Linked DNA regions of Homo sapiens. The protein of the gene in region 2 purifies or fractionates together with the protein of the main gene of each other region. This does not show direct contact. Each region holds a gene or a part of one and is shown on either strand. Other genes may lie near its edges. The genes, in order: MAGEA4 and BLTP3A.

What was found.
Region 1: the proteins of BLTP3A (region 2) and MAGEA4 purify together in Homo sapiens (co-immunoprecipitation; one large-scale study listed by IntAct). This does not show direct contact.

Annotation. Positions count from the first base shown.
Region 1 is NC_000023.11:151,919,148-151,923,167, reverse strand, and holds part of MAGEA4 (melanoma-associated antigen 4), read right to left. Parts: intron 3,576-4,020; exon of another isoform or gene 3,446-3,575; intron 643-3,445; exon of another isoform or gene 537-642; intron 1-536. UniProt on the Homo sapiens protein: Regulates cell proliferation through the inhibition of cell cycle arrest at the G1 phase. Also negatively regulates p53-mediated apoptosis.
Region 2 is NC_000006.12:34,872,083-34,875,048, reverse strand, and holds part of BLTP3A (bridge-like lipid transfer protein family member 3A), read right to left. Parts: intron 2,737-2,966; coding exon 2,611-2,736; 3' UTR 1-2,610. UniProt on the Homo sapiens protein: Tube-forming lipid transport protein which probably mediates the transfer of lipids between membranes at organelle contact sites. May be involved in the retrograde traffic of vesicle clusters in the endocytic pathway to the Golgi complex.

The DNA.
Region 1 (4,020 bases), on a different chromosome or scaffold from region 2:
CAGCCCCGGTCCCTCAGTGCCATCAAGAGGGTAGGCTGGACTCTGTGAGGTCCCCACTCTCATGGAGTGGATGATCCCCACTGTGTTCACTCAGGGCCCTCACATTTCTCCAGGCAGGGCCTGGATCCCACTCTTTTGCTGGCCTGAGAAACTCAGATCAAGAGCTCACATGCCTGAGAGGGAACAGGACCTAAGAAACCCCACATCTGGCCACCTGTGCCTAGGTCTTCCGAAGAACGACAGCAAAAGATGTCGAAATTCATTGGAACCCATGTGTCCTGGATGCGGAGCCTGCTTGGTCCTCACCTCAACTCCTGGCAGAGCCTGGGACCCTCCCTCTACTGACCTGGGTGCAGCCCCCTCAGACCAAGGCCTCCCACTCCGTGACACCAGTGATCCCAGGATAAGAGAGGGACCTCAGCAGAAAGCCAAGCCCATGCTCTCTGGGGTGACAACAGGAGCAGGGCTGATTTCTGTGGGGTCATCATCTGCGTTCTGGCCCTGTGGTACCCTCAATCCTCCCTCACATTCCTCACCAGGACTCTTGGCAGATCCTGGGACCACTGTGTCTGTAGACCAGATGGGGGTCCCTGTGGTGACCTGAGTCACCCTCTGAGAACAAGGTCCTCACCTCACTGAGATCTGGAATCAGAAATGAGAAGGAGCCACATCCTGTCACCCCTGTGTGGGGTGCCCAGGGCTGACCCCTTTGGTTCTGGGGTGAGGGTTCTGATGGCCTCCTGTGGGGTACTCATGTTTGCTCCTGACAGGGCCTGCCCTTCCTCAACCCCCAACCCCCTGAGATGAGCAAACATTGCCCCTTTACTCCAAAACCTCATCTCCCTGAAGGTTCCCCAACTTCCTGCCTGTGGAACAAGTGAAATTGGCACATAGGGCCATCCCTCCTCTGGTCCCCCCTGAGCTAAGAACAGGGGACAGCCAGACTCTGTGGGGTCCCGTCTTTCTGAGCCACAGGTATCCCCATTCCTCGTGAAGTGTGGCACACCTTGGGTCCTGTAGATCCTGGGACTCCTCCCTCTGCGGACCTGAAGTACCACCCCTCAGACCATAGCCCTCTCCTCTCTGTGACCTCGAAGATGCAGGAAGTATGAGCTACAGGTGGCTACCTTGCCCAGGACCTCCCAGGGCCCAGGTCTCCACTGATCTGGAATGCAAGGCCCCCTGAATCCTCCCTCGTCTTCCTTTCCTTGATCCTGGAAGGGCTTGGAACCCACCCCTCTGCTGACCTGAGTTGCCATCCCTTGGATTCCTGAGGCTAAAAGAGGAGGCACCTCATTCTCAGACGGGGTGGGGTGGGCTCCCTGCCTTGGGGTGCTGGGTCTCCTGAGGCCTTCCTCATCTCCCAGGAGGGCCAGGGTCCTCCCTCTGCTACCCTGAGGCTCTGCTCATGATACCAAACCCTCTCCCTCCTTCAGCCCTCGATGTGGATGTCAAGATCCGAGTGCCTGACCATTCCCAGGTCTTCCCGGGGTTGACTGCAGGGGAAAAAATGGATTCTGCAAAACGGAGTTGGGGATGGGGCTGGGCATGTTGGAATGCGGATGGGGTGGGGGTGTAGCGCCCTCAGTTCCCTCTCAAGGTCCTGACCCCGATGCCAGGCAGAGCCTGGGCCCTGCCTTGGGCACACCAAGCTCTTGACTCTAGAGTCCCCTGTAGCTTTAGTGGCAGTGGGAGCTGGGATGGCCTAGCCTGAGAAGTCTTCCCCCGGGTGGTCCAGGACTGGCAGCAGGAGCTGCGCTGGATTATTTGGGTTCCTCTATCTTGGGTGGGGGCCTCCTCAGTCCTTCCTCAGAGTCTCACCTTGCCTCGCCACAGAGCTTGGGCCCGCTCCCCTCAGCCGATCTCAACTGGCCCCTCAGGACTATGCCCTTGATTCTCTGACCCCCAAAAAACATCCCAGCACCAAGCCTGGGGTTTCCCTGGATTGATAGCAGAAGGGGAACTGGATTCTGCCTGGTGAGGGTGGAGGGCAAGGAATGGGAAATGGAGCAGCGAAATGGCAGCGGATTTGTGGGAGTGGGGGTTAGACTAGGATCTTGGGGGACCTCAGTTCCCTCTCAGGTTTCTGACTTTGATTCCTGGCAGGGCCTGGGCCATGCCCTCTCCTAACCAGCCCTTCCCTGATCACACCAACCTCTGACTCCAGAGTCCCCTGTGGCTTAAACAAACGCGTTGCGAAGGGGGCGGAGGTGGGGAGCAGCCCAGTCTGAGAAGTCAGCCTCCGCGGGGTAGTCCAGGGCTGGGACCCTCTATCAGGGATAGGGGTTTCCTGAATCCTCCCTCAGAGTCTCACTTTGCCTCTTCACAAAGCCTGGGCCACCTTCCCTCTGCCGATCTCAAGCCACCCTTCAGACCCAGAAACTCACTTCTCTCTAACCCTCAATTCACAAGTCAGTGGCATCACATCCGGCCACCCAGGGCTTGCCTGGATTGAAAGCAGGGGTGGAACCGGATGCTGCGCTGATGGGGATGAAGGTAGGGGTGGGGGAGGGGGGTATGAGGCTGGTTGGGGGGTTGGGGAGGATAGGGGCACAGGTGGGGAATGGGGGTACAGATGGGGTAGGGAGTGCAGATGGGAAAGGGGTAGGGGATAGGAATGGGGGTGGGGGACACTCAGCCCTCTCCTAGGGTCCTGACGTTGATGCCTGGCAGAGCCTACCCCCACCAGTCCTGCACTGATCACACCAAGCTCTGACTCCATAGTCCCCTGCGGCTTCAGCGGCAGTGGGGTGGTGGGCGTCCCAGACTCAGAAGTCCGCCCACGGGTGGCCCAGGACTGGAAGCAGGAGGGGTGCCGGATTATTTGGGGTCGTCTATCTGGGGTGGAGAGGGCCTCCCGACTTCTCCCTCAGCTTCTCACTATGCCACCTCACAGAGCCTGGACCGGCTTCCCTCTGCCAATCCCAAGCTGCCTGTCAGACTGAGAAGCTAGCGTCTCTCTAACCCCCAATGCACAAGTCACTGGCATCACATCCAGGAACCTGGAGCTTCCCTGGGTTGAAAGCAGAAACGGAATGCGATTCAACCTGGATGGGGATAGTGGTGTTGGGGTGGGGGATGAGGACATAAGGGTAGTGGGGGTTTGGGGAGGATAGGGGTGCTGGTGGGGGATAGGGTGTAGATGGGGTTGGGAGTGTGGATGGGAATGGGAAGGGGGATGGGAATGGGGGTGGGGGACCCTCGGCCCTCTCTTACAGTCCTGAGGTTGATGCCTGGCAGAGCCTGCCCTCACCAGTCTTGCACTGATCACCCCAAGCTCTGACTGCAGAGTCCCGTGCGACTTCAGAGGCAGTGGGGTGGTGGGCGCCCCAGACTCAGAAGTCCCCCCACGAGTGGCCCAGGGCTGGGAGCATGAGTGGTTCGGGATTATTTGGGATTGTCTATCTGCGGTGGGGGCCTCCTGAGTCCTCCCTCAGCGTCTCACCTTGACTCCTCACAGGGCCTGGCCCGCTTCCCTCCACCAGTCCCAAGCTGCTGGTCAGACAGAGCAGCTCGCTTTTCTCTAACCCCCAATGCGCAAGTCAGTGGCATCACATTCCGGCACCTGCGGCTTTCTTGGGTTGAAAGCGGAAGCAGAACCCGATTCAGCGTGGATGGGGGTGGGAGGAGTGAGGTCGGTGGAGGGGGCGCGTTTTGGGGGTGGGTTGAAAGCGGAAGCAGAACCTGATTCAGTGTGGATGGGGGTGGGAGAGGTGAGGTTGGTGGAGGGGCCCGGGTTTTGGGGTGGGAGATGGTGGTGTGAGAGAGGTGCGGGGTTGAGGAGGATAGGAGCCTGGTGGGGGATGGGGGCGCGGATGGGTTTGGGAGTGCAAATAGTAATGGGAAAGGGGAGGGGGTGGGGGATGGGAATGGGGGTGGGGTACGCTTAGCCCTCTCTTAGGGTCCTGAGGTTGATGCCTCGTAGAGCCTGCCCTCACTAGTCTTACACTAACCACCCCAAGCTCGGACTCCAGAGTCCCATGTGACTTCAGACGCAGTGGGGTGGAGGGCGCCCCAGAC
Region 2 (2,966 bases):
ATAGAGCCCTAGAGCTAGTAGTACAGGACCGGGTCCTTGCTCTTGATTGGATATTTGATCTAACTCCCCTCTGCTTTCATCTTTGCAGGATAGAGTCTATATTTTAAAAATGTGTCCTCATATGGATATACCTCCATCCCCTGATAATTTTGGCTGTTCTCTGGACCTTTCCTCCCTTTATCATATATCTTGTAAATAAGGTCACTAGAAACACAGATAATCCGATCAAGACATATCCATGGTTTTGTATAAAGTGCTGTTCTCTGTTATCTCCAAAAGCCCTTCCTGATGATGCCCACAGGGCAATTAGGCTTTTGGCCACAGCAGCACATTGATCTCTCCTCCCCCTCAGCAATGCTTGTTTCTTTCCTGAGTTCTAACAGTGTTCAGGCATATCAGTTGATAATTCTTCCATAAATACATTTCCTTATATTATGTTGAACCTCACCTGTCAGTTTTCTGAGTATTCTCAGCCCTGCTTATTAGTAACCCTTCTGTGGTTTTGTGTTTGTTTGTTTGTTGTGAGACGGAGTCTCACTCTGTTGACAGGCTGGAGTGCAATGGCGCTATCTCGGCTCACTGCAACCTCTGCCTCCCGGGTTCAAGCGATTCTCCTGCTTCAGCCTCCCGAGTGGCTGGAACTACAGGCACCCACCACCACACCCAGCTAATTTTTGTATTTTTAGTGGAAACAAAGTTTCACCATGTTGGCCAGGATGGTCTCGATCTCCTGAACTCGTGATCTCCCCGCCTCGGCCTCCCAAAGTGCTGGGATTACAGGCGTGAGCCGCTGTGCCCGACCGGTTTTGTGTTTTTTAAACCTCTTCTAGATTACCTTTCACTGCCTGGAAGTAGTGACATTTGATTTCACTGTAAAATCCTACTTTCAGGTCATTTATAAAAATTTTAAATAAGGTTGAACCAAGCATCAAGCCTTAGGTAACTTCCCATTAGCATCTTCTCCAGAAAGATGTTTCTTTGTTCCTAAGTCTCTATTTCTTAAGCATGAAAAATTCCCACCATCCCATAGTAACTGGTGTTTCAAAAATTGCCTTAGTAAAGAAACTTAACAAAAGTCTGAACAAATTGGGTCCTGTTCCTTGGTGAATACATTTTTTTTTTCTAGTCAAATGAAGTGTTGAGAGTGGAGAAGGAACAAAGAAATCTATGATTGGTTGTGATCAATTAGTTGTAAACACCACTGCAATTACATGTTTCTTTTTATCCTCATCAAACTAGAGTATGCAAGTCAAGCATAATTTCCCATAGAAGAAACCTTTTTACCTTTCCTTCAGTATGGAAAGGTGAATGGTCGAGACTTTAGTAACATCACTAAGTTACTATTTTACCATCTTGCCAAGTAAAGGTAAGTTAGCTGATGAACGTCTGTCCAATCAACACAGCTTCAAGTGTATCACAGGGCAGTATGAATGAAGGGATGGTGTTGGAGAAGAATTCAAAGGAAAGAAAGGGGGAAATAGCTCTCTTATAGGGCAGGGGGCAAAACCTAGCTGGGATGAGGGATTTTTGTGTTTTTTTCACTTGAGTCAAAATACATGAGTTTTAAAAGCCACAGTGATGGAGGGAAGTGAGAGGCAACAGGTTGAGTTGTTTATGTAAAAGTTTAAAACATATATTCAGCTCCCAAACCACCAAGGGCTGAGGAGAGAACTGGTAAGGTCACAGAGCTGGGAAAGCAGATGTGCCAGGGACCCCAGGGAGACAGAAGAGCCACTCAGCACAGCTGGGAAAGACAAGCAGGACTCCAGGCGGACAACAGGGGGCTCAGAAGCAAGCTCCCCCACTGACCCCTGGCATATCATGCCACCAACCTAGCTCAGCGTCAGAAATTTTTTCTTGATTTAAATTTCAAGTAAGTTGTATTATAGAGGGGAAAGATTAAATGACTGAGCCACTACTGTTATTTACTTTCTACCACAGCATCACAATGATGAAAGTATAACAGAAAGGAAGCTTAACCTGGAAAAATCTGATTGTGTTATCAGCCAAATTGCTATGAGCTTGGTTCCTTTTCCCAAAAAGGCAGAGTCCAGGTCTCCCTTATTCTTGTGCCTCTCCTGCCCCCTTCCCCCACACTCCTCTGCTGGACTATTTCCTGTTCCACTCCACTACCATGGCCAAAGCTCAGGTCATGGACTTTTCAGGTCTGCTATGGGAAGCTCTGGGACATGGAATCTTTGGTGGCTCTGTGGGTGACCGAGGAGGTGGGTACTTTTGCTTGTTCACACAGGCCTGTGAAGGAAGCAAATGTCCCTGCCATGAAACCATGAGGTGAAATGGCCCTACAGTGTTGAGAAGATTCCACCTAGTACACAGAGGACCAAAAGGCTTTATACAGGCAAGACATGATGCTTGTGCCACACACAGGGCAAGCCCCAGTTTCCTGGGATACAATCATGCTTTGCCCTTGTCCTCAGTCCAAGTAAGAACAGCTAGTGGAAAGCACACCCACACAAGTGAAGTGAGTGCTCCCCAGTCCCTCTGGCATCCGTAGTGACTTATTCAGCACTGGACAGTGCCCTCTGTCCTAGGTGGTGCTATTGCTGGTGATAGCCTCTCTCCTTGGCACAGATGGCTGAGCCACTGGTTTCAGAGCTCAAAGAAGGGGTTATATTTCCTAATCTCCTGAAGAAGTTTTTCTTTATCCTGGTTGGCATTGGCCAAGGCTTGTTTAGTTTCTATAAGTTCTTTTTGTAGGATAGGCAGTTCTTTCACCTGAGGAACAATAAGTAGTTAACAGTTAAATACGGTAATACCATCTTGCAACAACCGCCAGTAAAGGGAACAGGGAGGAAGAGTTCAAGGAGAAAAATCCACAAGTTATGTCAATGATTAAGATAACCATATCTTTTCTAAGACCTTGATTCCCTCTTCATAGTTCATTGGCAGGTGCAGTATGTCCTCAGCAACCATTCGTCTCCAGCTCCTGACATTTATCCTCTAGT